Homo sapiens: one gene and its partners. The protein of the gene in region 1 interacts with the protein of each later gene in a pairwise test. Each region holds a gene or a part of one and is shown on either strand. Other genes may lie near its edges. The genes, in order: PIK3IP1, SLC35A1, UPK1B and MFSD11.

What was found.
Region 2: the proteins of PIK3IP1 (region 1) and SLC35A1 interact in binary tests that used the Homo sapiens proteins (3 or more experiments, as listed by UniProt).
Region 3: the proteins of PIK3IP1 (region 1) and UPK1B interact in binary tests that used the Homo sapiens proteins (3 or more experiments, as listed by UniProt).
Region 4: the proteins of PIK3IP1 (region 1) and MFSD11 interact in binary tests that used the Homo sapiens proteins (3 or more experiments, as listed by UniProt).

What each region holds. Positions count from the first base shown.
Region 1 is NC_000022.11:31,281,802-31,289,895, forward strand, and holds part of PIK3IP1 (phosphoinositide-3-kinase-interacting protein 1 isoform 1 precursor), read right to left. Parts: intron 7,899-8,094; coding exon 7,698-7,898; intron 7,593-7,697; coding exon 7,514-7,592; intron 1,488-7,513; coding exon 1,283-1,487; 3' UTR 1-1,282. UniProt on the Homo sapiens protein: Negative regulator of hepatic phosphatidylinositol 3-kinase (PI3K) activity.
Region 2 is NC_000006.12:87,503,477-87,511,570, reverse strand, and holds part of SLC35A1 (CMP-sialic acid transporter), read right to left. Parts: intron 5,190-8,094; coding exon 5,123-5,189; intron 3,152-5,122; coding exon 2,975-3,151; intron 2,531-2,974; coding exon 2,396-2,530; intron 173-2,395; coding exon 45-172; 3' UTR 1-44. UniProt on the Homo sapiens protein: Transports CMP-sialic acid from the cytosol into the Golgi apparatus, functioning as an antiporter that exchanges CMP-sialic acid for CMP. Binds both CMP-sialic acid and free CMP, but has higher affinity for free CMP.
Region 3 is NC_000003.12:119,196,974-119,205,067, reverse strand, and holds part of UPK1B (uroplakin-1b), read right to left. Parts: intron 6,012-8,094; coding exon 5,928-6,011; intron 1,152-5,927; coding exon 1,101-1,151; 3' UTR 1-1,100. UniProt on the Homo sapiens protein: Component of the asymmetric unit membrane (AUM); a highly specialized biomembrane elaborated by terminally differentiated urothelial cells.
Region 4 is NC_000017.11:76,768,588-76,776,681, reverse strand, and holds part of MFSD11 (UNC93-like protein MFSD11), read right to left. Parts: intron 6,937-8,094; coding exon 6,811-6,936; intron 1,686-6,810; coding exon 1,511-1,685; intron 277-1,510; coding exon 141-276; intron 1-140.

The DNA of each region.
Region 1 (8,094 bases):
CCACTAACCCGTCTCCACATTGGGCAGTGGAAGGGTTCTGGAAAGGAAGCTCTATGGCTAGGAGCTGCCAAGGCCTCTTGAGTGTGACATCACAGGTTAGAGGCCCTGCTGAGCTGCTAGCACAGTGCAGTGGAGAAATGTTGCGCTCCGTCAGGAAGCTGGGCTCTTGCCATGCCAGTAGCTTGCTTACGACCTTGGGCAAGTCACTTTTTCCTCTCTGGGGTCCTGTGTCCAAAAGGCTTAATGAGCCCTTTCTAATGGTTCTTTGATTGCTTTATGAGTTAGGGGCTGTGACCCTAGCCCCAGTGCCCTACAGGAAGGTGCTGACCTGGACGCCCGCAGGACCACCTGCTAAATCAGGCCCACTTGGGGAGCAAGCCCTGAAGTGCTTTATTACCTTGCCTCTGAGCTTAGTTTCCAGGTTAGCCTCTTAGAAGCAGCTCACAAGGCCCCACAGTATAATTCCCATAGGTTAGCTAACTACTCTCTTACCTGTGCAAAATGAAGACAGGTCACTATCCATCCCTGAAGAGAAACTGGGGCATCCCAGGTCTGCCTCTGCTCCTGTGGCCAAAGGCGGAGCAGATCCTTCTCTATCCTCTTCCTAAGTGGAATGCTCAGTGCAATTCTTCCTTTCCTTATGAAACAGGAAGAGTCCCTGGGCCCAGGCCTGGCCCACGGTTGTCAAGGCACATCATTGCCAGCAAGCTGAAGCATACCAGCAGCCACAACCTAGATCTCATTCCCAACCCAAAGTTCTGACTTCTGTACAAACTCGTTTCCAGTTCTCAGAGGTCAGTAGGGAGTTCCATCCCAAATATTTTAAAAACTAAATATATTTTTTCAATGCCATCCCTTGACCTGCTTTACCTTAACCATGAATAACAGTGTATGCCACTCAAGCCCACAGTGGAGACTGAGGCCATCTTAGTAAAGCACAGAGGAGCCTGGGGGAGCTCCCCGTCTATCCCTGGTTCAGTTCCAGGGGTGCAGGCAATGTTTGGAAGCCCTTAGCAGCAGCATCACTGTGGGAGCTGCCACTGTCTCCATCCACAGACAAAATCTGCTCCAAGGGATGGACAAGGAGCACTGTTAGGACCCTACCCAGCCTTACCCTCAGCCCACAGGGCCACCTGCTTCTGTCACTCTTACTAGGATTCGCCAAAAAAGCGGGGGAGTGGTAGGGTTTTAACCAGAACACAAAGTGGTAGTTCCTCCTAGCTGTAGGAGGGTGGGCTGTCCTGCACCAGTGTCTGCATGGGCTCCTGCCCACTGGGGGGGCTCAGGCCCCAGGAGTCCCGGCCTGGCCCATAAGGGGGGTGGTGCCCTCCTGAGGGTCAACTGGAGTCTGGCTGGTGTGGACCACGACAGTCTTCTCATCCACAATCTCACAGGTGGGGTTGGTGAAGGCAGACAAGGGCAGAGTGATTCGCTGCATCTCCCTCTCACATACTTTCTGATCATGCTGTTCTTTCAAATCCTTCCCCCTGGCAGGAAAAAAACAAACAAACATTCAGGCTATGCCTCCTGCATAGCTTTGCTCATTAGATAGCATCCCTGAGGCTCAGCAAGAGCAGCAGCTTGCCATTGTCACAACAAATCAGTGGCTGAGCCAGGACCCAAACTCAGGTCCAGGATTCTAGGATATCCATTCTGCAAGACGGCGTTAAACTCAACAAGAAGCTCCTGCACCTCTGGTCTTAGGTTCTCCATCTGTAAAATAGGGTGACAGCAGTATGGACTTCATACAGCTTCACCGGGGCTCAATGAAAATAAAGTAAAGGACAGAGACTTTTTTTTTTTTTTTATGGTTGAGACAGGGTCTCAACATGTTGCCTAGGCTGGTCTCAAACTACTGGGCTCAAGCGATCCTCCCACCCCCCAAAGTACTGGGATTACAGGCGTGAGCCACTGCACCTGGCCAGATAGAGACTCTTAAAGCAAGACACAGTTTTGTTCTTTCAGCCCCAGAGACCCAGAGAACTATCTGAACTTCGGACCTAACCCATAAAGTTGTCCAGAAAACTGACCTGATCATCCTGCTGTGAGACAGCCTCCCAGAGATGCTTATTACTTTTAATAAGCATCTACTAAATGTCAGCTACAGGCTTTTTTTTTTGGAGATGGAGTTTCGTGCTTTTTGCCCAGGCTGGAGTACAATGGCACAATCTCGGCTCACTGCAACCTCTGCCTCTCAGGTTCAAGCGATTCTCCTGCCTCAGCCTCCCAAGTAGCCAGGATTACAGGCATGCGCCACCACGCCCAGAGTATTTTGTATTTTTAGTAGAGATGGGGTTTCTCCATGGTGGTCAGGCTGGTCTCGAACTCCCGATCTCAGGTGATCCACCCGCCTCAGCATCCCAAAGTGCTGGGATTACAGGCGTGAGCCACCACACCCAGCCTAATCCCTGTTTTATAGATGAAGAAACTGAGGCTTTTGAGTTTAACTTCCGCGCCTTGCTTTCCTCAGCAACCTCCTTTACCTGTGGCCAGCTGAGCTGCTGCTAATGGCCAGGCTGCATCATATACAAGTCTTTAGGGGAAAAAAATCAATTTGTATTAATGAGGCAGAGCAGGGCTGGAAGAGCAGTCAAGGGTAAAGAAAGCAGATGCTGGCACTAGTCTGGATTAGTCTCATCCATTTGGAAGCCTGGAAGCACACTCAATCCCATGTGCCTGCTGTTAATGGTGCCTGTGAGTCCTAGAGATGCAGTGGCTGCTCCCAGCTCCCTTGGGTGACCTTTGAGAGGCCACTAGGCCTGCTACACTGACCATCAGGCAGCCTAGCCCCTTCTCACTGCTTGGGGGTAGGGGGTGGTTAGCCTGGGTGTTGTGTGGCAGCCAAGAAAGAACAAAAGGCTTGTTCACTGACTTAGTTCCTCTCCTAAGGGAGTGGAGTGGTGTTGACTTACAGTTTTTCCCTCCCCTTTTTATCAGAAAATAAGACCTCCCTCTGAAGCTAGTGCAGACAGTACACTTAGCTCCTCAGTCACAGACTGGCCATTTGAACCTCGTGGCCTAGACTACCAGGACAAAGACCCGGCCAGGCTGAGCTCCCACCCACCCCCATTTACAGCCCTCCCTCCCTAAGAGGAAGCCTGGTGCCTGCCCACCCATCCCAGCCAGGGAAAAGCTCCATCCCATTAGGCAAGCCTCATGGCCTTTGGCAGAGCTCAAGGCTTACAGTACCTACCCTGACTGCTTGCTCCAAGGCCAGGGTGGGACTGGGAGCTGAGCTGGCCAGAGAGAGCAGGTGTAGAGGAAGCTGCTGCCTACCTCCAACTTCCTCTCCCAGAGTATGGAAGCACCACAGACCTCATTCAGACTACACAGGTCGTCTTCAATTATTACTCTGAGCCGCTGCTATTTTCCCAGTCAGAGGCAGTGCTGTGCCACACTGCTGCTCAGGAAAAGTTCCCAAGGCAGCTACAGGTAATAATCACAAGAGCAGCCAACATTTATTTCCTGCTTTCTTAATAAGTAAGGCCCTACTGTATGCTGCCTCCAACTTCCTCTCCCAGGCTATAGAACACCAATTGTATGCCTAAACTATACTGTCCAATTTCATCCTCACAACCTATGTGGTATCTATTTTGATCTGTTTCATAGATAGGAAGGCAGATGCAGAGAAGTTACACTATTTGTTCAAGCAAATGGCAGAGCTGGGATTTGAACCCAGTCTTAGCACCGGCAATATTGTCTTTTTAGGAAATAGAGTTGGGAGTATCACCATATCTAACCCCCTTACAGTACAGATGAAGAAATTGAGGTCCAGAGAAGGTAAATAACTTGTCCAGTGTCACATCCAGAATAGGTGAAAGTTCCAGAACTAGATCTTGTTTCTTCTGACTTTAAACCCAGCCTTTTTTTAAATTTCTATTTTTCCTACTTTCCTTTGCAATTCAAAGCAAATTTACATGAGGCTACTTGGCCTCACTGGACTTGCTGGAGATACTAATACTCCTCAGACATACATTACTAGCTGTGTAGCCTGGCCATTGTACTTAACTCTGCTAGGTCTCAGCTCCTCACTGTAAAATCTAACAGTGCTCCTAGTGTGGTTGTGAGGCTTAGTCAAGGTAATCAGGAGGCTGGGTGCAGTGGCTCATGCCTATAATCCCAACACTTTGGGAGGCCGAGGCGGGTGGATTGCCTGAGGTTAGAAGTTCAAGACCAGCCTGGCCAACATGGTGAAACCCCGTCTCTACTAAAAATACAAAAATTAGCAGGACATGGTGGCGGGTGCCTCTAATCCCAGCTACTCGGGAGGCTGAGGCAGGAGAATCACTTGAACCCAGGAGGCGGCGGTTGCAGTGAGCCGACACAGCGAGACTCTGTCTCAAAAAAAAAAAAATTAAGAAAAAAAGATAATCAGGGAAGAGCATACAGTAGGGCCTTACTTATTAAGAAAGCATGAAATAAATGTTGGCTGCTATTGTGATTATTACCTGATTGGTGTGCTATTGTTTCTGTTTACATTTAATACTTATAATCTTAGATGGGTAGATGTGGAGGGAGGATATATCCCCATTTAACAGACAAGATACCAAGGCTCAGAGGGCACCTGAACCCACACTCAACCTACAGCTCTTTTCAGGACACTCTGCTCTCTGACTTTAGGAAGAGATGAAGGCTGCAAGCTTGTTTTTAAGCCCACATGCGGTTTCCTGTTGTACAGTCTGTTCTCAGAGCAGTTCTGCTGAAGAAAGGGGTGATCTGGTCGTTAGTGACGGGGAGTCTGATGACTGGGTGCCTTGCCCTGAGTTTACAGGAAAATAAATTTTAGGCCTCAGGGCAGTCTCGTGACAGCCTAGAGGAACAAATCTAGAAGAAAAAAGACTTCCACTGGACACCAGAACTGAGCTCAGAATTAAGAATGTTTAGTCAGTTCAAGCACCTGGAAGGCCTGGAAACTGTCACAGGATTGCAGGACAGCCAAATGCTGTTGGGTGGCTGAGGAAAAAGGAGATAGTTCAAGGACTAAACTCAGCCAATGTGGCTTAGGTCTGCTTATGAATTGTAAGGCCAGGGCCACTATGTCATTAACTCTGAAATGAACAAGCAGGTGTCCCTGGACCTGCATGTCAAGCATCCCATTGTGGGAAACAACCTCAGACTGGGCGTCAGGATGTCCTCTCAAGTCAATACTTTCCCTCTCTGGACCTCTGCTTCCTGCATCATAAGAAATCAGAGAGTACTAGTCCATTACCCACTTTTTTTTTTTTTTTTTTTTTTTTGAGACAGCATCTCACTCTGTCACCCAGGCTGGAGTGCAGTGGCACAATCATGGCTCACCATAGCGACTTCCCAGGCTCAGGTGATCCTCCCATCTCAGCCTCCTTAGTAACTAGGACTACAGGCGCCCACCACCATGCCTGGCTAATTTTTGTATTTTTTTGTAGAGACAGGGTTTTGCCATGTTGCCCATGCTGGTCTCGAACTCTTGGGCTCAAGCGATCCACCCACCTCTGCCTCCCAAAGTGCTAGGATTACAGGTGTGAGCCACTACGCCTGGTCCATTACCTACATTTTTTTTTTTTTTTTTTTGAGACGGAGTATGGCTCTGTCGCCCAGGCTGGAGTGCAGTGGCACAATCTCGGCTCACTGCAACCTCAGCCTCCCAGGTTCAAGCGATTCTCCTGCCTCAGCCTCCCAAGTAGCCGGGATTACAAGTGCCCGCCACCACGCCTGGCTAATTTTTTGTATTTTTAGTAGAGACAGGATTTCACTATGTTGGCCAGGCTGGTCTCGAACTCCTGACCTCATGATCTGCCCGCCTCGGCCTCCCAAAGTGCTAGGATTACAGGTGTGAGCCACCACGCCCAGCCACACATTTTATAGAAAAGAAAAACAGCCATCATTTACTGACCACCTACTATGTGCCACACCCTGAGCTAAGTAGTCAAAAGCCATAGCTCCACACCATGATGTGGAGTAGGAAATTGAAGCAATTTGCCCAGGGTCACAGAGATAGCTAGTTAAAGGACTTCTCTCCACCAAATGCTAGGTGTGTAACCTCAGGTAACGTATATAATCCCCTCTTGCCTCAGTTTCCTCATCTGTAAATTGGAGATGACAGCATTTACCTCATAAGGGTGATTATGAGTTAAAGCATGTGCTTCAAGCAGTGTCTGGCATACGGTACATGTTTGCTACTGCTGTTATTATTATACCCAAACTTCCCCTTTTTCATCTGTAATGAGGAGGTTGACTACAAGGCCTTTAAAGATGCCCTGCTGGGTGATCCACTGAGGCTGTGGGCTCAGACATGGCCCTCATCACTGGAAAATGCAGGCTGCATGCCAGGCATGGTGGTTCATGCCTATACACTTTGGGAGGCTGAGGTAGGAGGACTGCTTGAGCCCAGGAGTTTGAGACTAGCCTGGGCAACACAGTGAGACCCTGTCTCTATAAAAAAATTAAAAATCAGCCAGGCATGGTGGGACATGCCTGTAGTCCCAGCTACTCAGTGGGGGTGGGTGGGGGTAATTACTTGCGCCCTGGGAGGTTGAGGCTGCAGTGAGCCGTGATCGCACCACTGCACTCAAGCCTAGGCAATAGAGCGAGACCCTGAAAAAAAAAAATCAAAGAAAGGAAGGAAAGAAAGGGGAAGGAAGGAAGGGAGGGAGGGAGGGAGGAAAGGAAGGAAAAATGCAGGCTACTGTGTCACTTTCCTCACAGGAAGTTTTCTCAGACCACAGAGGAGAATATTACAGACACCCAGGGCTAGAAGTCAAATCCCCCGATTTTGCCCAAGAATGGCAAATAATTTTCCACAATCAGCCAGTGCTGTAAAGATGAATGCCAGTCTGGCTTACCATCATGCACCAGTCACTGACGGACATCTCGTGGGACCTTTCAAAATAAGCATTCTTCTCCTGCTGTCCCAGCCACAGGTCATGTCCTTGAGTTTCACAAGTAGCCTCTTTGGCTTTCTCACACGTGGTGAAGAGTGGCAAACAGACTTTCTGTTCTCCAACTCACTTTTTTCTTCCCTAGCAGAGGAGATCCCACTGCTTATAGCTCAGGAAATTTAAGCCTCAACTGCAACAGTGGCTGGAAACCTTTTCTAGTAGCAGAATTTTATAACTCACAGAAAGAATTTGGTCTTAAGGTCCCTGCAATCAGTGTCAAGCCTGATTTCTGCAGTGCCACTCACTTCAATGCCAGGCATGTGGGATCAGACAGCAGGGAATTTGCTATCAAAAGAGCTGGGTCTGAATCCAGGTTCTGCCACTCCTAGGCTATGTGACTTTGAGCAAGTCTCTGACAGAGGCTTCTTCATTTGTAAAATGCGGAACAAGAACATCCCTCACAAGGCTTTTAAGTGAGGTGTAAAGGCACCAAAGGAAAGGGTTTGTCCAAGGTCAGCAGATAAAGACTAGGACCAAGTCTCTACATCTTGAGCTGATTTTCAACATCTTGCTTCCTTTTGGGTAAGAAAGCCACAAAGTTTGACTTTGTGTACCTTCCTCCCCTCCTCCTAAGAGGGCCCAGAAGAGAAGCTACTGACCTCTTGTAGGAGTAGCCCAAGATGATGCCAGCTCCGATGGCAATGATGATCACCATCATGGTAATGCCCAGCACGTAGCCTGCCAAGGATAGGACACAAGGTCCCATTAGCCACACCCTAGACAATCAGCAAATGACATCTCTTGATGAATCCCAACGAGGGCAGGGGTGGGGGACCGTCATACCCAGAGTTCCCAGGTCCTTTTTCTCCTTGGAGTTCATCCGCACCCGCTGGCTGATCCCAATCACTGGCTGCACAGCTGCCGCCTCACTCCGAGCGGGCAGGGCGTTGGCAGGAGCGAACACCTGCACCTCATCTGCACCTGGCCCTTCAGACGCTTCCTGGATTTCTGTCGTGAAGGCTGGCAGGGCCTGGGAGGTGGTCTCTGGAGATGAGGTGGGAAACAGCTCTCATCAGGGACTGCCCTGAGTGAATTCCACAGCTGAACCTGGCCTGAGTGTTAGGGTAGATGAAGGTGGGTCACCTAAGAATTTCCCCCCACACACAACCCAAAGTCAAATTCTGCCCCAGAGGTAAGATCAGGCCTGAGAGGGCTGAACCATCTCAGGGACAAGGCAAAT
Region 2 (8,094 bases), on another chromosome or scaffold:
TGCAAATGGTTTAGTCTTAAAAGGAGTCTCACGTGAGGCTAAAATCACACACCAATAACTCTCTCCTTTGAAGCTGTTTCTCCTTGTTGGATGGATGTAGTGTCTTGTCTGGGTAATCCATAGAGATATATGGAAACACATACAAGAAGAGTACCCAGGGCAAAGGTGAGTGCTGAAAAGAAAAAAAAAAATAGCTTTATCTGTATGTGTGTCTTTAAAATGCCTAATGATCAGTTTAAAATTTTGAAAACTCTTAATTGTGGGTTTACACTATCAGATCATATTTTTATGATGGCAAGGTTTAGAAAGGTCTTCCATTACAGCCAAAAAAAAGGAGAGGGGGAGGCAGGGCGGGTAAAATCAAGGCAGTGTTTTGTTGATCACTGATTACAGACTTTTTAGAACATGAGTATGCCTAACTGACACTATCTGACCACTCTGACAAAGAACATAACTAATTTCCCTATAAAATATATAATTTTTTTTAAATGTAAGTATAAATATATATAAGTACAAAAGAAAATGTGGTAGGATTGGCTTTTCCGTGACAACCAGGAACCTGTGAAAGTTTAGAGTAAAAGACAGGTGACCAATCATTCAAACCATTGATAATTTCTTAATCGGAGATGAGGCGATAATTTACTGAATAAAACTACATTTCCTACTAGTCTTAACCCTTTTTTCATCTTTTTTTTTTTTGAGACGGAGTTTCGCTTTTGTTGCCCAGGCTGGAGTGCAATGGCGCAATCTCGGCTCACCGCAACCTCTGCCTCCCAGGTCCAAGCAATTCTCCTTCCTCAGCCTCTCGAGTAGCCGGGAGGAGCATGCGCCACCGTGCCCAGCCAATTTTGTATTTTTAGTAGAGACAGGATTTCTCCACGTTGGTCAGGCTGGTCCCCAACCTCAGGTTATCACCCGCCTCAGCCTCCCAAAGTGCTGGGATTACAGACATGAGCCACCATGCCCGGCACCTTTTTTCATTTTAATCTTAAAAATCAGGATGCAAGAAACCAAATCATAACTTGTCCTAACTTGACAAATAAATATATTTATATGACATCAAGCTTTATTTTAGTTCACTCCTAACTAAAAAAGACCAGCTTTGCCTTCAAAAAAGGAGAAGGTAGGATAAAAACTTGTATCTAAACAGTTAACTGAAAGATTGCTAAGACATGCTAGTTGACCATCAGTAAGAACATTAAACAAAAGCATTTTCTACTGTTCCTATATATTTCTTATGAGCAATGGTATAAGGATTTTGTTGAACATAAAGATAGATCAGAATTACAGCTAAAAGTTCACCCAAATCAGGTAGAAAAACATCTAAGGGAAAGCCTATAAGTACCTGATACTGAAATGGTAAGTGGTTGGTAAGTAGTGTCAAACACTACTCTAAGCACTTCACCTGAAAACACCACTAGGCAATAGGTGATATTATTCCCATTTTACAGATGAAGAAAGTGTCACCCAGGGAATATAACTTCCCCAAGGCTGCACAGTTAAGAAATGGTACAGGCAAGATTTGCCACAGACTATACATGGTTTTCTAAAATTTCTACAACACTATTTCCATTTATATACAGGAGTCAATTTTAAAATGAAATGTAAATATAAGCCAGGTCTCTTTTACTTAATATATTTAACAGATATTCTTCATACATTGGTTTATATTATAATAATTGATCAGTAAAGAAAATTATTACACTATAAAAGCACCCTGAAATGTTAAGTCAATATCATTGCTTAAATAATTTAGAAGCCAAATTAATGCTGGGTGTGAGAGTTGGGAAAATTATATTAGGACTAACAAAGCAGTGGTACTGGAATGCCAGCTATATTAATGAGTTTTGTATTAATTACATATTGAATGAAACAAAGATACAAAAGACAAAATCTAGATTTTGATTGTTTTCAAAACCGTCTCACACCCAAATGCAAAGCAGTTGGAAAGTACAAGCTGAGGGAGGACTAAAAGATGTTTTCTACATTCTTCTAAATAATGAGCCAATATAGTTTAAACTGACTGCTGAAAATAATTTCCTAAAGTCTTTATATGTATTTCCTTGAGTACCTTCTCACATTCAGACACTCAAGTTGTCCTATATACAATACCTAAAAATACAGGGAGGCCTTGACTGCAAAAAAAGTCCCCTCACTTTCACATAGAACTAGCACCCCTCGTCTTAACCTCTAAGACCACCTAAACAACCAAAGTACTGCTTAGCCACATCCCACACAACTATGAACAGCTGTACTGGTGGAATAAACTGTAGTAACAAAGCTAGGAATTTCTGTAAACAGTATGACCAACTGCCACTTTTAAATAAGGGATTAAATGAATCAAGGAAATGGGAGGCTCTTCCATGTTAAAAACTCAACACAAACTAAGACATACTTATCTGTAATCCAAACAGCATTACTGAAGCAATGGTGGAAAGGACAATGGCCGCTGCTGCAGAAAAGCCTTTCATGATGTTGTCTGTGTACTTAACCACAACAGAAGTGTAGAGGCCACCAACACTTGCAAGAACTTGTATACAGAGAGAAATAAAATCTTATCACTCAAATAAATGAAACATTACATAATGGTGAGGCAATTTTCATCCCCAGAGATGCCATACTTTACCTAGGAAAAGGAAAATACTGTTTTCCTTAGAAGGAGCCATCTGAGAGTTTGTACTAAAATTGGTAGTTCCTATATAACACTGTTTTTCCAAAACAATGCCCAGAGGGCTATGTGGTCTATTAAATTTTACACATTTTTTGCTAATGTTAGATATTTTGGGGCATTGCTATCCCAAAGCAATTTTGCCTTCACAATCAAAACTAAGTCAACAAAATGAAAATTATATTCAAACTGGTATTTACAGTATCAAAGGATTAATTTCAAAATGTTATAACAGCTTAAAATGGACATCTAACTTAAAAAAAAAATAAAGGATCTACTAAGAACCTTTAATTCCTGGATACTTACAGATGACAAACCAGACATAATATGTGTAACCATAGAAAAATCCTTTTTCTTTAATTTCAGCTCCATCTGACAAGTAGACGCCAGCTAATGTCACAATAATCCCTGATAGATACATTTGAATGTTTCTCACCCAAAGAGAAGTATCTGAACTCTTTAAAACTTTTTCAAAATATACTCCTGAAAGAAAATTAGACATGCAAATATTAAAGATTACTATAAATTAACTTAAAATGTCTTTCATTTAGAACAATACCCTAGAGATATATAAAGTATATGATTTGGGGAACAAAACATACTTTACTTAAATGTGCATTTATTATGTAGGTTGTGTGACACATGACATACTGTACATTATAAATTTATGTTTTTACAGAGTATATAGAATAATAACTAATTGGGAAGTTTATAAGCTACATTTAACAGAAGGCTGTTAAATTAAGACAGTTTCTGCCTTTATTAGAGCAGTAAGACCACAAAAGCTCTCTGTACTACTTAATGCCAGTATGTCATTTGCTTTGGTCAGCTGAAAAACTACATTAAGAGTGAATTATCTTAATCACATCCCTGTAATATCTGCCTACTAATGAATACTCCTAATTCTGCAATATAATCTATAATCACCACTAGGAATCTTTTCAGAGTAACAACCAAAACTGAAGTAGAATTTGCTGTGTAAAGCCATTTTCCTTTAAAGCAGGGTTCCACAAGCCAAGTTCATACACAAGGTCAGAAGGATCATGAACTCCCCAACTGGATAATAAATTTTGTGTATATGTGCATTTTTCTGGAGTTGAAGGTCCATAGATTTTTTCAGATACTTCAAAGGAGTACATGATACCCCTCCCCAACAAAAGTCCCCTATCTCTGGATTTATGCTTAAAATGAATGCATATTTTACAAAGCCATTAAAGATTTTAGTTATAAATATCATGCTAGAGACTTAGGAACTGCCAATGAAGTACTTATCAACTAAAAAGTCTAACGAAAAACAAGATTATTTTTGATGAGTCTGTTGGAATGGGAACATAAAATAGCTATTCTTATTTTCACCTCTGATTTTACCTTCTGGGAGAAGCATTTATCCAGTGCTCAGTTACCGTAAACACAGAGAGATATTAAACCACCCTCCATTTCCTCAATTGTGTATTAAGAGAGTGAACTAATAAAATGTTGGACATAATCATTTAACTGTTCAAAATATTGCAAAAAATCAAATAGCATATTTTTTAGGTAACTCAATTTTTGTTCCCAATTTGTTGGTTTCTAGAACACAATGCTATCAGTAAGTATATTCCTGAATTTAAATTTTCCCCTCGTATAAAACATCTTATTTACAAGCAGTATTTTACTTCTGTATTCAGCCTGCTTTCCTAGTCAAAAATAGTCCTGACTTGAAATAGGTACAAATAAATAATAAAGATGTATAGCTATAACTAATATATTCTACTAAAAGCTTTAAGCAGAATATATTAAAAACTAAATCTCTGCTGGAACTATTTCTAAAACTTTTTTTATGTTACACTTAATATTCATACTTTCTTATCTTGATGCATTGGAGGAGTGCTTGTCCCTACACATACAACGCCAGACTTCCGTGGATTGTTGATGTTAGTGATTTTGTGTTGTCTTTCCTCCCTGTTTGGTTATTAGCTTTATGTATTATGTTTTCTAAGGTACTCTCGACCCACCTCATGATCCTACTCCATAGCTCCTAACCTGTTAAAGCAGAGAAAGAACTTGAGGTTATAGGGGAAAAAAAGATACTTAGCTGGTAACATTAACAACCTAAAGCAGCAGGATCTGACTTGATAGTGGCAGTTCCAGAAAAAAGGAAAGGGCTTTCTGAAGACTAATTTCCTCCATTTTCAGAAGTCTTTTTTCATTTACTTTTGGGTTTTTGGCCGGACTGAGATGGTCAAGGATAACAGAAGTAGTTAACTGCAAGTATGAATAGGGACTGAGTCTGAACTTAGTTGAACAATGCTATACATTTACTGGAAAAACAGCTGACATAAAACTAAATATAAGCAAGAAGATCAAGTTTAATGGGAATAAAACTGAGAAAGCAAGATAAACTAGACTGGTGTCTAAAGTTTGATGTTTTCGAAAAATATGACAAAAGAATAAAACAATGCTTTCATGATTTACCTGCAAATCCTGAGCACAATACAGCAATAGCTATAGCGCCAAACCCTAATAATGGATTTTGTTCCACCTGCAATATTAATTGTTAAAGTTATTTTTAGTGACTAATAAACAGAGTTCATCCAAGAGTCCAAACAAATAAATACAAAAACCTGTTACAGTCTTACTAAAAGTATATTCCACATCAGACACAGCTATTCTACAGAATAAGACAACTAAACAAAAAGACCATTCCAGAAATTAACCAGGGCACTTGGCTTAAGTGAAAAATGTGTCCCTCAAATCACAGCCATAGTATATGCTTAATATAATATGTGCCCACTGTTTCCTAATACCAATAAGCACTCTAGCATGAACTTTTGAACAGGCCAAGTCAGCATACTACTTAATTTTAATTTCTATTATCACTCTAATTTAAGAGCTTATAGCATCAATCCTGAAAATGATAACAATTTAACTTATTTATTCCTCATCACCTACAGGATACAGTGCTGCCTCTTAAGACTCCCCAATTTATTGAATTTTTAGTATACCTTCTGTGTACCAGATACATTGTCTATACACACTGCTGTGGTTTGAATGTCAACTTCAAAACACATGTTGAGATTTAATTGCCGTTCTAACAGTATTAAGAGGTGGGCATTTAAGAGATGATTAGGTCATGAAGGCTCTGTCCTCAAGAAGGGATTGATGCCATTACTGAGGGAATGAGTTAGTTATTGAGGGAGCAGGTTTCTGATAAAAAGGATGAGTTCAGCCCACTTCCCTCTGTCACATGGGATCGCTTCTGCCTTCTGCCATAGAATGAGCCTCACCAGATGCCAGCACCGTGTTCTGGACTTCCCAGCCTCCAGAACCATGGGCCAAATAAACTTCTGTTTTTTATGAGTTACCCACTCTGCGTATTCTGTTATAGCAGCAGAAAATGGACTAAGATACATACTAAATGAATAAAGAAGATTACAATACACAGCTCTGTTATGTATAGGCAAAATTGACAAGTATATATAACCAAAATAGTGTGAGACCAGTGCTCACAGATCCAAGTATATGGGTCCTAACCCTCTGTTTCACTTTATTTTCTCTTTCTTTTCTAAACTGTCAGGAGCTTTCATCAGTCTTTCCTGAAAGATAAATACTATCTCAATAGTATCACTGAAATTAGAGGGTTGAGATTCATGACTGTAATATGACAAGGAAGTATATACCTTGTTCAAAATAAATAAGCCTGATATAAGAAAAGTGCCACTTTATGGTACCTGAGAGAGCAAGCTTGGTCTAAATTGTTTGCATGAAGATAAAAGGAGAAACAGAAGACACTGTAGACCAGTGGTTCTCAAAGTATGGACCCTGGATCAGCAGCAGTGGCACCACTGGGGGTTTGTTAGAAATAAAAACTGTCAGGCTCTACCCCAGACCTACTGAACCATAAACTATGGGAATGGGCCTAGCAATCTGTTTCAACCAACCTTCCAGTTGATTCTGATGTACGCTAAAGTTTGAGAACCACTGCTATAGACTATACATTATTAACAAGTATACTTTCCTATAATACAAATTTCAAGACTGGCATAGATAGAATAAAATCATAGTGTGAGATACCACCTATCCCAACATCTGCTGGGAAGCTCCAACTGCTAAAAATAGAGTGCCTGATAAATTCTTGACTTAGTTTCCTGCCAGTTGAATGTCTCTACAGTTAGGAAAAATAGTGATGGAAACAGCTTATCTGGACTTGATTCTGACAAGAAACTGCTGGGTGATGAAGTAGATGTGATGGGAACTTTGGCAGAAAGCAACCATGTGATCTGAGCATGAGCCAAACACAGCACAGTTAAGAGACATGTGCTCCAGTCCTGAATAAATCAAAACTCAAAAATGTAAAACTTCAAGTTAGAATTCCATGGCTCGTGAGAAGAACATTCAAGAGAGATTAAGAGTTACTGAAGAAGGAGGTTCTGGTGAAAAGTAAAAAAAAGAATACATAAGGAAATCAACATATCTAAATAAGGGCATCTTCACTGAATTCTGATTTTACAAGAACAAAGCCGAAGTACAGATCACCAAGAGGAATCTAACCAGGAATTTAAGAATAGTATCAAGAAATCGAAAACTCAGAATAAGTGGAGGCTTGCAAAAAATCCTGTAAGGCATTAAAGAAAGCTTTTTTTTTTTTTTTTCTTTTTGAGACAGGATCTTGTGGTATAATCATGGTTCACTACAGCCTCAACCTCCTCGGCTCAAGTGATCCTCCCACCTCAGCTTCCCAAGTAGCTGGGACTACAGGCATGCATCACCACATCTAGCTAAGTTTTAAATTTTTTTGTAGAGACATGGTCTCACTATATTACCCAGGCTGGTCTTGAACTCCTGGGCTCAAGCAATTCTCCCCGCCTAGACTACCTAGCTAAATAAATTTAAAAGACTATCAAGAAAAGTAGGTGAGTTAGTGTATATAAAGCATTTAGATAATGCTAGTATTTAGTGCATTATAAATGATTGCAGCTGTTATTGTTACATTGATTACCAGCAAAATGTTAGAACAGATTTAGAGATGACTTGTACTTAAAAAGCTTAATGGTCATCAGTGGAAAATAGTGTGACTTCACCAAGTGTGAAACATACCAGATTTCCTTACTGAAAGGACTCCTAATGTTAAGTGATGAGGGGAATTCCATAGAGATAATGTTTGGCAAAAAATGTGACAGACTTGCATATTATTGTTATTATTATTATTATTGAAACAGAGTCTCGCACTATCACTCGAGCTGGTGTGCAGTGGCGCGATCTCGGCTCACTGCAACCTCTGCCTCCCAGGTTCAAGCGATTCTCCTGCCTCAGCCTCCTGAGTAGCTAGGATTACAGGCGCCTGCCACCACGCCCAGCTAAGTTTTTGTATTTTTAGTACAGACGGGGTTTCACCATGTTAGCCAGGCTGGTCTCGAACTCCTCACCTGGTGATCTGCGACCAGCCA
Region 3 (8,094 bases), on another chromosome or scaffold:
GAAACATAGTGCAGATGAGAAATATTTTGACAGTAAACAGAAATCCCTGTAAATCACCCCATTCTATTGGCTGGCTTGCTTCTCTCCAGTTTGAAATGGTCTCAAGCTGAGACCATTCAGGGCAAAGACTGAGTAAATATATAACAGGCACCTTGTCTGTCCCCAGAAGTCCCCACGCTTTTTTGTTTGTTTTGAGACAGAGTCTGGCTCTTTCATCCAGGATGGAGTGCAATAGGTACGATCTCAGCTCACTGCAACCTCTGTCTCCCGGTCAAGTGATTCTCCTGCGTTAGCCTGCCAAGTAGCTAGGATTACAGGCACCTGCCATCACGCCTGGCTAATTTTTGTATTTTTGTAGAGACGGGGTTTCACCATGTTGGCCAGGCTGGTCTTGAACTCCTGACCTCAGGTGATCTGCCCACCTCGGCCTCCCAAAGTGCTGGGATTACAGGCATGAGCCCCCACGCCCAGCCCACACTTTTAATTAATGGAGAATTGAGGCTACTAAACACATACTTCAAGGTATGAAAGGAAATTTGAACCACTGTTAAGAATTATTCTGGAGAATAAAAGGATCTGAAGGTGGCATCAAGAGAATCACCCATCTCCATATATGGGAGCTACTCTAGAAAGAAATGCAAAAGGTATATTTCAGTAATCTTTTCCCAACTTCTCTGTTCCCCTGACAATACTGAGATCAACAGAAGCATTGGAAGGTTTCTTTTAGATAATAGTGAGAGATACAGGCAGATTGCTAGCCAAATACAGCTCTGGGTTACTGTGATAACACAGGTTCCTTCGAATGTATTTATTTTCCCAAATTAAAAATAAGCAGGGATGGAAGTAGTTATTATGCATTTTTCAAATTCTCCTTTCAACAGTCTATATAAATGTTGCAGAATGCTAGACTAGGATGAAAAGTAGGAGTCATGAGAACTGCAGAAGCCTGAGATCCTAAAGGAAGTCCGTACCATCTGACTTGGCAATGTAAGACACACACGTTAGTGTGGGGCACAAACGTGGAATATTAGGAGAGAGCTGGTTCCAGCACCAAATCCAGAGTCACTCGGGGAAGGAGGTATGGTGGCAACACTTTATGCTTAATATTCAATTCTGCTCCAGTAGAACATGGTACCCAGGAGAACCCAAAACTGGAATAGAAAAAAACAAGGAAAAATAAACAAGGGATTGTTTTAGAAACATCTCATTCTTGGAAAAAGTGGATGTTAGGTTCATTCAGGCTTAGGTGACAACAGATTTTTTTGTTTGTTTGTTTTTATTTCTTCTAAAAAACCAAAACAAAAACAGGATACATGTACAGAACGTGCAGGTTTGTTACACAGATGTACGTGTGCCATGGTGGTTTGCTGCACCTGTTGACCCATCCTCTAAGTTCCCTTCTCCTCACTCCTCACCCCTCAGCAGGCCCTGGTGTGTGTTGTTCCCCTCCCTTTGTCCATGTGTTCTCATTGTTCAACTCCCACTTATGAGAGGGAACATGCAGTGTCTGGCTTCCTGTTCCTGTGTTAGTTTGCTGAGGATGATGACTTCCAGCTTCATCCATGTCCCTGCAAAAACATGATCTCATTCCTTTTTATGGCTGCATAGTATTCCATAGTGTGCATGGACCACATTTTCTTTATCCAGTCTATTGCTGATGGGCATTTGGGTTGGTTCCATGTCTTTGTTAGATATCAGATTTTTTTTTTTTTTTTTTTTTTTTTTTTGAGACGGAGTTTCGCTCTGTCGCCCAGGCTGGAGTGCAGTGGCGCGATCTTGACTCACTGCAAGCTCCGCCTCCCGGGTTCACGCCATTCTCCTGCCTCAGCCTCCTGTGTAGCTGGGACTACAGGCACGCGCCACCATGCCCGGCTAATTTTTGTATTTTTAGTAGAGACGGGGTTTCACCGTGTTAGCCAGGATGGTCTCGATCTCCTGACCTCGTGATTTGCCCGTCTCGGCCTCCCAAAGTGCTGGGATTACAGGCGTGAGCCACCACGCCTGGCCTAGATATCAGATTTTTAAGAGTAATCTCGTTATAAGCAACATCACTGGGCCAGATGTGACACCAAATCCATCCTGCTCCAAAGCATCACTTATTACCTGCCACTCAGAAGCAACTTCTGTGTTCCCCACGTTCTGATCCCAGTTCTCATCCTAGATTCCTTGTCTTCTGGGGTTGCCCTTCTCGTCTGTGCTAAACTCTTTTTGCCATCAAGGCCACTTATCCTCCAATGCCTTCCTGTTTCTAGTATGTACCATTTCGGGGTAAGCATTCCTTGCTTCTAGTATTAAACTTCTCCCAGGGAACTTCTATTTTTTCCTAAAATGCTTGTGCCCTGGAATGGCTGCCTCTGAAGAATGCCACAGAACTCAAGATATCTGACTTAGGCAAGGGCTGAGTTTTATTTTAGTTTATTTGGGCTCTGTTTTAGATCTGGTACTTACTCCTGGGTAACTTTAGCCAAGTCACTTAAATTTCCTGAGCTTCAGTTTCTACATTTATAAAATAAATATAACATCTCTACCTACCCCAAGCTAGAGCAGTGAATGAGATAATGAAATAATAACAGGGTCTAATGTTTATTAGAATACCTTATTATGCATCACTCACTATTCTAAGTGTTACCCATATAACTGAAGTTAATGCTTCCAAAACCCTATGGAGAAACGGAGGCACAGAGAAGTAACTTACCCAAGGTCATAGAACTAGTAGGTGGTGGAGGTGGGATTCAAACCCAAGCAGTCAGCTTCAGAGCTTATCTAGTTAATCACTAAGAAAAAGCCCCTTGCAAGCAACAGTGAAATGGGCATGCTTAAGAGCTCTTATTAAGCACAATTCTTGAGAGCCCCACTGAATTTCTCTGCTCCTTGTAAGACAGGACACTGGCTACCTGCTTAGCTACTGTTGTGGGGATTTAATATTAAAAATATTTGACATGGTACCTTGTTTATAGCAGGCCCTCAATACATTTAATCATTTAATTCCCTTCCCTTCCCTTCCCTCTTTTGAATTTCAAGAGGGAATTAACTAGATCTAGAGTTTATTTGATACTTGTGGAAAATCAAGGGTTACAACTGGTTTGGAGTTCTAAGATACTCAAAGCCTTTAAACATTATCCCACAGTTCCTGCTAATATGGCACAAATAGAAACTTCACTGTTACCTTTCATTCATTCAACAAATGCTTGAGCCCTTACTACATGCTATGCTTGGCACTGGGGGTACAAAGAACAGCTAGTTCTCAGCTTTTTGCAGTCAAATACATCATCATGGAGAAGTTCCATCATAGAGGTGTGCTCAGGATGTTGTGAGAGCTCCTAACAGGTTGGGTTGAGGGATCATAAAAGACCCCTTGAAGGAGTTGATTTCCCTCTCCTTCCTGCCTCACTCAGTTTATCACCCCCTAAGCTAGCATTTCTTAAAGCATAGTGATATGGTTTAGCTGTGTCCCCACTCAAATCTCATCTTGAATTGTAGCTCCTATAATCCCCACATGTCATGGGAGGGACTCGATGGGAAATAATTGAATCATGCGACCGGGTTTTTTTCTGTGCCGTTCTCGTGATAGGGAATAAGTCTCATGAGATCTGATGGCTTTATAAAGGGCAGTTCCCCTGCACACGCTGTGTTGCCTGCCGTCATGTAAGACATGCCTTTGCTCCTACTTCGCCTTCTGCCATGATTGTGAGTCCTCCCCAGCCATGTGGAACTGTAAGTCTATTAAACCTCTTTTGCTTTATAAATTATGCAGTTTTGGGTATTTCTTCATAGCACTATGAAAATGGACTAATACACATAGTAAACACCTGAGGGACAGTTCAGAAGTCCATTATGTAAGGCTATCTGAATAACAATGAGAATTTATTTGCCTTTTTCACTGTTTTCATATTTGCACTGATGGTGTAAATGCAGTGGGAAGTAAAACTCCTGGAGTATTAGCAAGAATCAAGGCAGAGTCACTAAACTTTGTTAGTGATCATTGTGTCTTCACTGCTACGCACTTGCAGTAAAAAAAAAAAATTTAAAAAGCCAGTTTCACTTGAGATTGTCCTCAATGAAGCAGTAAGAACTACTAATTTTATTACATTTTGGCCTTTGAGTACACATCTTTTTAAATATTCTGCATGACAGAAAGGAAGTATTCATTCATAAAACAGTCTGTTGCATAGTGTAATATGGTTGTCTTAAAAGCACTTGCATGATTAAAAGGAAACACCACTTTTACTTTAAAAAATGATGAACAGACACGCTATGGTTGTTTGGACTTGGACATGTGGCAGATATTTTCTTGAAAATTTACAAAGTGAGTCTGTCACTTCAAGGAAAACAACTGACAATATTCATTGCCAATGATAAATTTGAACTTTCAAGCAAAAATCAGAACCTTGGAAAACTTGTAGTTGTCACCGTGAACTTGATAGCATTCCATTGCTTAAGGTATTTTCCATGTGGCAATATCAATGCCACATGTGATTTTCTGGATATTGCATACATAAATCAGTTAACATTTGGAAGATCTGCATAACACAATGAACTAATATTTTTTCCAAATAAGCAATCTATGATGTTATAGAATTATAAATGGCTGAAAGATATATGCAAAGTGCAAGACAAACCAATGTAATATATTTTAACATAACAGAGTATGAAAAGCTCATTAACAGAATTTCAGATTCCAAATTGCAACTGATCTTTAAGAAGCTACTACTTGTGGGCTGGGTGCAGTGCTCATGGCCATAATCCCAGTGTTTTGGGAGGCCAGGGTGGGAGGATTGCTTGAGGCCAGGAGTTCAAGACCAACCTAGGCAACAAAGTAAGATCCTGTCTCTACAAGAAATAAAAAAATTAGCCAGGCACAATGGTGTGCACCTGTGGTCCCAGCTACTGGGTGAATATTATTAAAGCACTATTTTTTTAATTACATGTCTATATGAAGGATGCATTTTCTCCAGATCATTCAACCTAGGCAACATATTACAACAGATTGAATGAAGGTGCAAATATGAGAATCTAACTGTCTTCTATTTAGCTAGTCATTGAAGAGATTTGCAAAAAAGTCACTATTATAAAATAGTTGTTTTTCCACAAAAATGTGTTGTGATAACTTTTAATGGGCTTATTATTTTAAAATAAATATTTTAAATTTTTCTATGTTAATTTCCAATGGGGTAAATGCCAATAGATATAGGCCACATAGAGAAAAGCTTTCTGGAGTCCTCAATAATTTTTGAGAGTGTAAAGGGGTTCTGAAATCAAAAGTTTGTGACTGCTTCTCTAAGGCAATGGTTGTCAACCCTGACAGCAGATCATCTGGGGGAAATAAAAGTGCCTTGGCTCAACCCCCAGGTCAACTAAATCGAAGTCTCAGAGGTTGGGATCCAAGCAATTTTTAAAAAAAGTTTCCCCATGGCGTTTTAATGTGTAGCCAGGGCTGAGAACCACCGCTCCAACCTCTTGCTGCATATGCGTCAGATAAAGTGGGCAGTAGGAAAGGATGAATCTGCCAGAGGCAGCTCTTTAGAAGGATCTGGGCATATTAGTATCAGGCAGGGGCCATCTAGATAGGTGACAGTCTTTGATATGTGGATGAAATGAATTAATGAGATCTGGAGACCAGGAGGAGCAGTTCACTAAGAACTCTGGCAAGGGAAAGAGGCTCTCCAGCCCTCTAAAGGCAGCTGCCCATCAGCCGGAAGAAGGAGCTGGTTGGCAGGGCACAGCCTTTCCCTGGTAGGGGAAGTTAACTCCTTGCCTCTCAAGAGAACCCACTGTCCTTCTTCCGGTGCCAGAAGTTTCCTGACTAGCCTTCAGGCCTGAGGTTTTGTTTCTAGACTTTCTAGTGTGGTTGAGGTAACCAGTGGCACTCTCAAGGTCTCTCCGTATGATCATCCTCTCAGATAAAATATGTGCTGGGAAATACTCACAGTCCAGCAGAGAATGGCAAATCCAAACCAGGCAACCCCCCAGGCGTGTCGGTTCATTGGACCAGAGATCAGTTCATAGCAGCCCTGAAGGAGTGGGCAATTCCACATTAGTGTGAGAAGAACCAGAAAGCAGAGAAGAGATTGATGGGAAAGCAGGTTCCTATTGGAATCAATGCTACTCAAAATTCTGATTTCACATATCCAGGCTATTTCCACATCTCTGAGGACAGCCAGCTACTAATAGTGCTTTACTAAGGGAACATAAACAATACTGTTGAACAATGATTCCACAACACATTTATTTGTGTCTTTATCACTTAATCTCACTAAAAAGTACTGCTATTTTAGCATAACCCTCTTTCTATACTGAATATGTGGACAATAAATTCAAAAATCTTAATTCAATTAGAATTTTTCCCTCCCCAAAGGCTTCGTTGGTGATTTATTTGGAGGCAGTTACTTTTTGATTTGTTTGTTTTTGAATAAAAATGCTTCTGTCCATGAAAACCAGAGGTCCCCTGTTGCCATTTTTAATAATCATTAAAGGAACTCCTGCATTATGCTCCCTGAATTCTCATTTGATGTTATATTTCAACATATCTTTACTGGATTCTAGTGAGACCTTGAAGGGTCACAGTGAGCATGCAAAGGAATAATTTTTTTATTCACCAAATCATCCATTCATGCATGCCACAATCCAGTAAGTATTTATACATGGCGCACTCTATCCTAGTCACTGTGCAAAGTTCTGGAGTGATACACGCATGTAAGGCTAGAGCTGCCATCTGAGCAGCCTCTACCAAAGCTCTGGGAACCAAAGGGAATGCCTAGGAAATGCAATAACCAGGGCTGGTTCCATGGACCATGCGGCTCTGCCTCTCACCCCATCTTCCACTACCAGAGGAGGTTTCTCTATAAAGCGAATGAGCTTAAGCTTCAGGGCCCCTTACTTGCAAGACCCTTTCAAGGCCCTGTGCCTAATTTTGTATGCATATTTTTATTGTTTTTCCTAAGAAGGATCCTTCCCTATAATTTGTGTGTGAGGGTGGGGGTGGGGGACTCCAGCCACAAAAAATCTAGCTCCATCCTTGTCATCTACTCATCCTTCACTCATTCTGACTTTGTCATACTGATCTCCTTTATGCTCCTTCAAAAAGCTGGGCCTGCTCCCACTTAAGGGCCTTTGCACTCACAACTCCTTTCTTGTAGAACTTTCCTCCCCAATCTTCCGGTGTCTCATTTTCTCACTTAATTCAAACCTCTGCAAATATCATCTCAACAAAGCCTTTCCTGACAGTGACAGAGAAAAAGACCCTTTCTCCATCCTACTCTATATACTCACCCTGCCTTATTTCTGCTCATGGCCTATTTGGGCCTGGAATTTTATCATGTATTTGTTTGGTAACATGTTTATTTTCTGTCTCCCATGCTAGAATGCAAGCTCCATGAGGGCAGGGATTTTATGTTGTTCACTGTTGAATTTCTAGAACCTAGAACAAGTGCTTGGCACATAGTAGACACGTAATAAACATTTACAGAATGAATGGAACATTAATGTTTACAATAGTATAATTTGCAACACACTTGATGGTTCACAAAACACTCCCATATCTGCTACTCCTTGGTCCTCCCAACAATCCTGGGAGGTGGTCGTTCATCTAATAATATATATATAAGGGCCCACTTATGCCAGGTGCCAAGTACTGGCTGGGCATTTAGCTGTGGCAAACAGAAATGGGCCTTGCCTTCATGAAGCTCACAGACAGAAGCCCCATTTTTTTCACCATCATTTAGTGCCTTTTCGTGATGCTAGTCAATTTAGTGGTACTTTACTTGATCTTCCTTCATTTTATTATAACATTTTTGAGGTATAGTGATCACAATTTGCACATAGCATTTCTGAGTCACATAAACCATAACATAGAATATATATATATTTGCATCTGACATGCTGTGTGAAATTCTAGTTAATTTCTACTATTAACAAGCTTATAGTGACTTCCCTAATTTTGTTAGTCTTCACAGCTATAGCAGCACATTTGTGCATTGTAGATCCTGAAAACCTACAATATGGTTGTCAAAAAGTGAAGCCTGGGCAACACAGTGAGACCTCATCTCTACAAAAAATAAAATTAGCCAGGCCTGGTGGTACATGCCTGTAGTTAGT
Region 4 (8,094 bases), on another chromosome or scaffold:
GTGACAGAGAGAGACTCTATCAAAAAAATAAAAATAAATAAATAAAAATTAAAACCACAATACAAGTAACCAAGGAAAACAAGGCAATACACAAAGGGAAGAGCCCTATGTCAAACACAATCACAATCTGAAGAGGTTACCTGAACAAACTTGAAGATGGCAAATGCTGGGGCGCTGTCTTCAGAATACAGAAAGCCCAAGATACTAAGCAGCTGGGTATTAAAGCAGCTGTCTCCAAGGCCCAACAGAAAACTGCAGAGAATGGCAACTTCTTTGCTGAAGAAAATAAAAATCAATTTAGTATGAGCAATATCTGCTAGAGCCATTTAAAATATACAAGCAACCCACCCACAAAAGAATTCTACCTGCAAGTTGTAAACACTATGAAACAAAAATAAAGACAAAGCTGGTGCGGTGGCTCACACCTGGAATCCCAGCACTTTGGGAGGCTGAGGTGGGCAGATCACTTGAAGACAGGAGTTTGAGACCAGCCTGGCCAACATGGCAAAACCCCATCTCTACTAAAAATATAAAAATTAGCTGGGCATAGTGGCGCGTGCCTGTAATCCCAGCTACTCGGGAGGCTGAGACACGAGAATCACTTGAACCCCGGAGGTGGAGGTTGCAGTGAGCGGAGATCACGCCACTTGCATTCTAGGCTGGCAGACAGAGTGAGACTCTGTCTCAAAATAAATAAATAAATAAATAAAAATAAAACATAAAGACTAGAATTTACAAAGTAAGAATTTTTGCTCAAATGCACACACCTTTACATTCTAACAAACTCTGGTCTCAACCATTTGTGAAGAAAATGCAGGTTGAGTATCCCTTATCAAGACCAGAAGTGTTTCAAATTTTCTTTTCAGATTTTGGAACATCTGCATTACACTGACCAGTTAGGTATTTTTAATCTGAAAATCTGTAACCTGAAATGTTCTAATAACACTTCCCTTTGAGCATCATGTTGGCCCTTGAAAAGTTTCAGATTTTCAGATGCGATATACTCAGTTTGTATAGTTTTTTGGGCTGGGCTCCCCTTGGATTTGTGGAGCTGGACATAAATGTCTGCGTTTATAATGAACTTGAGAGTTGAGTGCACTAAACCGATATCCTCAAACGTTATATAAACTGCTCTGGAAGGACTGAATGGCCTCCCCGGTTGCCAGGTTCTCCCTCGCTCCTCTTTGTTCTTCCTCCAGGCCCTAATGTCTGGATATTTCACTGCTTAAGAAGCAGAGATAAAAAATTCAAATCAGATACTTACGTGCTCCTTCAAGGATCAAGAAAAAGATTTAGTGGGGGAAAAGGTTAAAACCAACTATTACAAAAATAACTTAGGATTCTCTAAGGATTCCTATTTAAACTCAGTCTGACTCCATGAACACTTGACAGATGACCTTAGAGAGACACCAGGCTCTCTGAAGAGGATTAACTGCTCCACTTTCAGTATCTAGCCATCCGTTACCTCCCACCCGTACTCAAGCGACTAGAGAAATGACAGCCACTATACCTGGATTTGATGTAAGCACTGCTGTCAGTTCCTTTAACAGGAGCAATCGGGGCATCTCCAGGCATGTTGAGAAATATTAGATAAAAAGCTATGAAGTGCACCAGGATGCCCAACAGCACAACTGGATTTCTACCAAAACGATTGTTCTTGCTCAGCAGGCCGAAGAGGCTTCCACCTATAAGTCAAGATGGCAGAAACGTCACTAATGTTGCCGAAACATCACATACCCAGGCCTGAGTTACCACCAAGGAGCCAAGGAATAAACATTCTCACTTGTTAAATTTCTTCAAAAAACCCAACACCTCAGCACTTGCAGACAATGATAATGATGACCAAGCATCAACTATTAGAACAAAAAAGTAAGGTATCAAAATGACTTGCATTTCTATCCAGGAACATTCTTGTATTTCTTCTCTGTGAATTATTGTACCCCACAAGCTATCCCCTTTGACCTGTAGCTTATAACAGAAATAAAATAAGGACACAACTTGTCATTATGACCACGTTTTTGTTGCAATCATAGCCAAACAAGCCAAGGTATCACACTGAAAGGCAGTCACTATGGATTCTGAGAATTATGTGTGAGCTCCGAAGGGGAGTCAGAGAGGCCTAGGAAGAGTCAGCAGCCAGAACAGCTAGGATATCTCAAAAGCTGAGAGGAGAATCCTCAAGAGTGAGAAGAGGAGAACTCTGTAACTGAAAGGAAGAAGACCTTTATAATTTTTAAGTGATTTCTACCCCAGAAATCGATACCAGCAAACCTATATATCAAAAGTGAAGGATGGCTGGGTGCAGGGTCTCATGCCTGTAATCCCAGCACTTTGGGAGGCCAAGGTGGGAGAATTGCTTGAGGCCAGGAGTTCCAAACCAGCCTCAGCAACATAGCAAGACGCTGTCTTTTTTAAAAAAAGAAAGAAAAAATTGTATATATATTTTTTAAAAAGTGGGCCAGGTACAGTGGCTTACACCTGTAATCCCAGCCCTTTGGGAGGCCAAGGCGGGCAGATCACCCGAGGTCAGGAGTTCGAGACCAGCCTGGCCAACATGGTGAAACCCTGTCTCTAGTAAAAATACAAAAATTAGCCAGGTGTGGTGGCACATGCCTGTAGTCCCAGCTACTTAAGAGGCAGAGGCAGGAGAATCACTTGAACCCAGGGGGCAGATGTTGCAGTGAACCAAGATCATGTCATTGCACTCCAGCACGGGTGACAGAGCAAGACTCTGTCTCAAAAAAATAAAAAAATAATTTAAAAAAATTTAGAAAGTTGCTGGGCATGGTGGCTCACGCCTGTAATCCCAGCACTTTGGGAGGTCAAGGTGGGCAGATCACGAGGTCAAGAGATCAAGACCATCCTGACCAACATGGTGAAACCCTGTCTCTACTAAAAATACAAAAATTAGCTGGGCGTGGTGGCGTGCGCCTGTAGTCCCAGCTACTCAGGAGGCTGAAGCAGGAGAATCGCTTGAACCCAGGAGGTGGAGGTTGCAATGAGCCAAGATTGCGCCACTGCACTCCGCCTGGCAACTGAGCGAGACTCCGTCTGGAAAAAAAAAATTTAAAAAGTGAAGGTTAACAGTAAAAACAAAACAAAACAAAAAAACCCTGCCTAGAAAATGGGCAAAAGATATGCACATACACGTCACCAAAGAAGATATAAAGAGGGTAAATACACACATGAAAAGATGCTCAACATCATTACCCATTAAAGACAAAGTAAAACCACAATGAAACATGACTACACATCTATCACAATCGCTAACATCAAAAACAGTGATAACACCAAGTGCTGGCAAGGATTCAGAAAAACGGAATCACTCACACATTGCTGGTACAGCCACTCTGGAAAATATCTGGCAGTTCCTCTCAAGAGTAGGCAGCAGAGGGAGAAAGAACCCAGGCGGAGGCCAGCAGCCCCCATGGATTGAAGAGACGGGGATGTGACTCTAGGGATATCAGGGTGACCAGAGTTCACAGACAACGGTATCAGAAAGGAAAGCTACACAGAAAAACAATTCCAGAGAGCTGCAGACAGTCCCCCTGAGTCTTCAGCTGAGGACTGATCAGTACATAAAGTGAGCAAATTAGCAGAAGTCTGGGAAAGAACCAGCCAAGAGGATTAGTGGTATTAGGGCCCCGCCCTCAGCTGGGTATAGTGTCTGGTCCCACCAGCCACTTAAAAGCTTATGATTCACAGGAACTGGGTGGAGCACACAGAAGGGTCTTCCCTTAGAAGCAGGAAATAATTAGCCCTAGACTGAGTAATGCTCCAGTCCTGCCCAACAAATCTTAAAAGGTATGCTGTTTTCAATTAAATGAACTACATCTAAGAACAAAGCTCAAAAATACTGACAGGAGGGCCAGGTGCAGTGGCTCATGCCTGTAATTCCAGCACTTTGGGAGGCCGAGGTGGGTGGATCAAGAGGTCAGGAGATTGAGACCAGCCTGGCCAACATGGTGAAACCCCATCTCTACTAAAAATACAAAAATTAGCCAGGCGTGGTAGCGGTTGCCTGTAGTCCCAGCTACTTGGGAGGCTGAGGCAGAAGAATTGCTTGAATCCCAGCAGCGAAGGTTGCAGTGAGCCAAGATCGAGCCACTGCACCCCAGCCTGGGCAACAGAGCAAGACTCTGTCCTTAAAAAAAAAAAAAAAAAAAAGTTACTAAGGTAGAGCGTTAACAATAGATGAATCCTGTTAAAGGATATTCAGATGTTCATTGTACTATTTTTATTTTTGCAATTTCTTTTTTTGTTTTGGTTTTTTGGTTTTTTTGAGACAGAATCTTGCTCTGTGGCCCAGGCTGGAGTGCAGTGGTGTGATCTGGATTCACTGCAACCTCCCACTTCAGCCTCCCAAGTAGCTGGGACGACAGGCATACGCCACTACACCTGGCTAATTTTTTTGTACTTTTTTTGTAGAGATGGGGTTTTGCCATGTTGCCCAGGCTGGTCTCAAACTCCTGAACTCAAGCGATCTGCCCACCTCAGCTCCCCAAAGTGCTAGAATTATAGGCGTGAGCACTGTGCCTGGCCTATTTTCGCAATTTCTTATCAATTTGAAATTATTTTTTTCAAAAAAGCAGGTTGCCTACAGAAAGTGAGTTTCTTCCCAGGTAGTCTACAGGCAGACACTAAACAAGCACTTACCAGAGAAGACAACCCTGCACTGACTCACCATGGCTAAGCTTCGCCCGCCATTTACATACCCATAACTCCCAACATCAACCTCCAGCCCACGAGTCCCTCCTGAGCATCAGCCTGCATTTCCCACTGGACACTTCTCTACTTGGGTGCCTCTCTGGTACTTAGAGGTGTTCAAAATCCCATTCAGCAGATTTCCTCAAACCCCATCTCCTACAGCATTCTCTCTGCCCAGGTTACTCTGATCAACCTGGTCATCATTCTAGACATCTCTCCTCACACCACCACGCAACTGGTTACTAAGTTCTGCTGAAACCATGTTCTCATTATTCATTCAACACATTTAACTCATTTATTGGATGCCCAATATAGACCTTGTCCTGCTCCAGGTGTTGGCAATAAGGCAGGGGCCAAAAAGCAAAAACAAACAAACCCTCCAAAGTCCGCTTTACCCATGGTGCTTACCACTGCCTGACATACAAAGATTTCTGTTTTTATTGTCTGTATTCTTCCTCAAGAATATAAGCTCTATATGGGCAGGTATTTTTGTCTATTTTGTTGACATGACAGATTACAATAAACCTTTGTTGAAGTTCCTCATATCTAACACAATATTCAATATACTGCAAGTGCTGAACAAATCTTTGTTGAACAAAGAATAACTCGTGGAGCATAATAAAAATACATATTTGGTCTTTGCTGCTAGTTCTTGGCACAGAAATCCTAAAAGGCCTGGAATTTCCTCAGTGATACGAGGGACATTAGTTATTCAGAAAGAGCCACTTTCAACCATACTGAAGTTTACGCTAAGGGGGCAACCCTTGGGGAGAGAGGGGTTGGCCTAGGATAGAGCTTCAGGATGAGGCTGGTTCCCAGAAAGACCAAGCCCTGAGGGCTAGAACTTCCAGGCCCCTTTCACTCCCACTTCAGGGAGGGAAGGCTGGAGATTAAATCAATCACCAATGGCCAATGATTGTTTTTTTGTTGTTGTTAGAGACAGGGTCTCCTTATGTTGTCCAGGCTGATCTCGAACTCCTGGGCTCAAGTGATCCTCCCACCTCGGCCTCCCAAAGTGAATGAGCCACTGCACCCGGCCATGTGGCCAATGATTTAATCAAGCATGCCTATGTAACAGGATCTCCATAAATCCCCCTAAACAGGGTTGGAGGAGCTTCTGGAGTGGTGAGCCCAAAATCCATGGAGACAGAGGCTCCTGCACTTAGGGACCCTTTCAGACCCCACCCTTTGCACCTCCTCATCAGGCTGCTCATCTGTATCCTTTATAATAAACTCTAATAGTCAGGAGAGCATTTTCCTGAGTTCTGTGAGTTGCTCTAGCAAATTATCAAACATGAAGGGGGAAGAGGGCTATGGGAACCTCCAAATTTGTACCCAAGTCAGAGAGGTGTGCCTGAGAGGCCTATGGACCCAGACTGTCTGTCTGTAGGACTGAACCCTTAAACCTGTGGAATCTGACACTAACTTTGGAGAGTTAAGTGTTAGAACAGGATTGAGCTGTTGGACACCCAGTTGGTGACAGGGAATCAGAGAACCAGAGTCAGGAATTCCAAGACTTTCTAAATATTTTAGGAGGAAAAGTCGGGAGACATTGTATGTTTTCTTACACAGGGTTTCCATCTGTGAATTATTTTGCAAATGTTTTATAATTTAGTTATATTAGAATAGCAATAATAGGCCGGGCATGGTGGCTCACACCTGTAATCCCAGCACTTTGGGAGGCCGAGGTGGGCGGATCATGAGGTCAGGAGATCGAGACCATCCTGGCTAATGCGGTGAAACCCCGTCTCTACTAAAAATACAAAAAAATTAGCCGGGCATAGTGGCGGGCGCCTGTAGTCCCAGCTACTCGGGAGGCTGAGGCAGAAGAATGGCGTGAACCCGGGAGGCGGAGCTTGCAGTGAGCTGAGATCGCACCACTGCACTCCAACTCTAGCCTCGGCGACAGAGCGAGACTCTGTCTGGAAAAAAAAAAAAAAAAAGAAAAAGAATAGCAATAATAGAAAAATAAAAACACACGTTTGGGTAAAAATAAGTAGAAAAAACAGAAATTCAAGGACAAAGGTGAAGCACACTTAAAATTTCTATTTTACCTATAATAAACTGATATTTTTAATGCAAACGCTTTTTTTTAAAACCAACCTAAAATTTCTCCAATGCCGATGAAAATGCCAGAAAGTCCAATAAGGCTTTTCTCTTCTGCTCCAAATTTATTTGTAGCACCAATACAGGTTCCATATACACCAGAGAAGAAAGTTAATTCCAGACCTTTAGTTAAAGAAAAAAAACAGATGTCATTTATATATTCACATTTTTGTTTATCTTCCCATCTAGTAGTATCTGACGAAAGAATACTTGCGTAGTAAAACACATAAAACTCACAGAGACTGAAATATTAATCCCCAAGCAGAGCATAATGTGATGTAACTGATGAAATGGAATTAGCTTCATGCTATGGACTAAATGTTTGTGTCCTCCCCAGATTCACATATTGAAACTCAAATTCCCCAAAACATGATGGTATTTGGAGATGGGGCCTTTTGGAGGCAATTAGGCCATGAGGGTGGAGCCCTCTCGATGTGATTAGTGCCCTTATAAATAGAGACAACAAAAAGCTTGCTTCCTGTCTGCTCTCTGCCATGGGAGGACACAGCAAGAAGGCAGCTGTCTACAACCAGGAACAGCCCACACCACAAGCTGCGCATGGTGGCATCCTGCTCTCAGACTTCCCAGCCTCCAGAACTGTGAGAAATAAGTGTCTGTTGTTTAAGCCACACAGTCTATGGAAATTTGTTATAGCAGCTAAAATTAAGATACCACAAGACGGCATCTGCCATATATTTCAGGTAAAAGTATACAACTCAAATGAACAGATATCCTTATGTTAAAACCTATCACTCTCCATGCAGGCGGAGATGGGCAGAGGTGATAATTAACATAACTTTGTAACAGTGAAGACTAACATGCTCATTAACCTTGTTAGTAGCTTTCCAAAGAAACAGGAACATTCTTTTTTTTTTTTTTTTTTGAGAGAGAGTCTTGCTCTGTTGCCCAGGCTGGAGTGCAGTGGCGCTATCTCAACTCACTGCAACCTCTGCCTCCCAGGTTCAAGCAATTCTCCTTGCCTCAGCCTCCCAAGTAGCTGGGATTACAGGCATGCACCACCACACCCGGGTAATTTATGTATTTTTAGTAGAGACGGGGTTTCACCATTTTGGCCAGGCTGGTCTCGAACTCCTGACCCCAGGTGATCCACCCACCTCGGCCTCCCAAAGTGCTGGGATTACAGACATGAGCCACTGTGCCCAGCCCCTATTCAATTATATTCTTACTGTAATGGAAAGCCAATACATACTATACAATGTGTCTTAAAAGCACCATAATGTTTTAATTAAACCCCTTTTTCTAGGAAAAGAAAATTCCAAA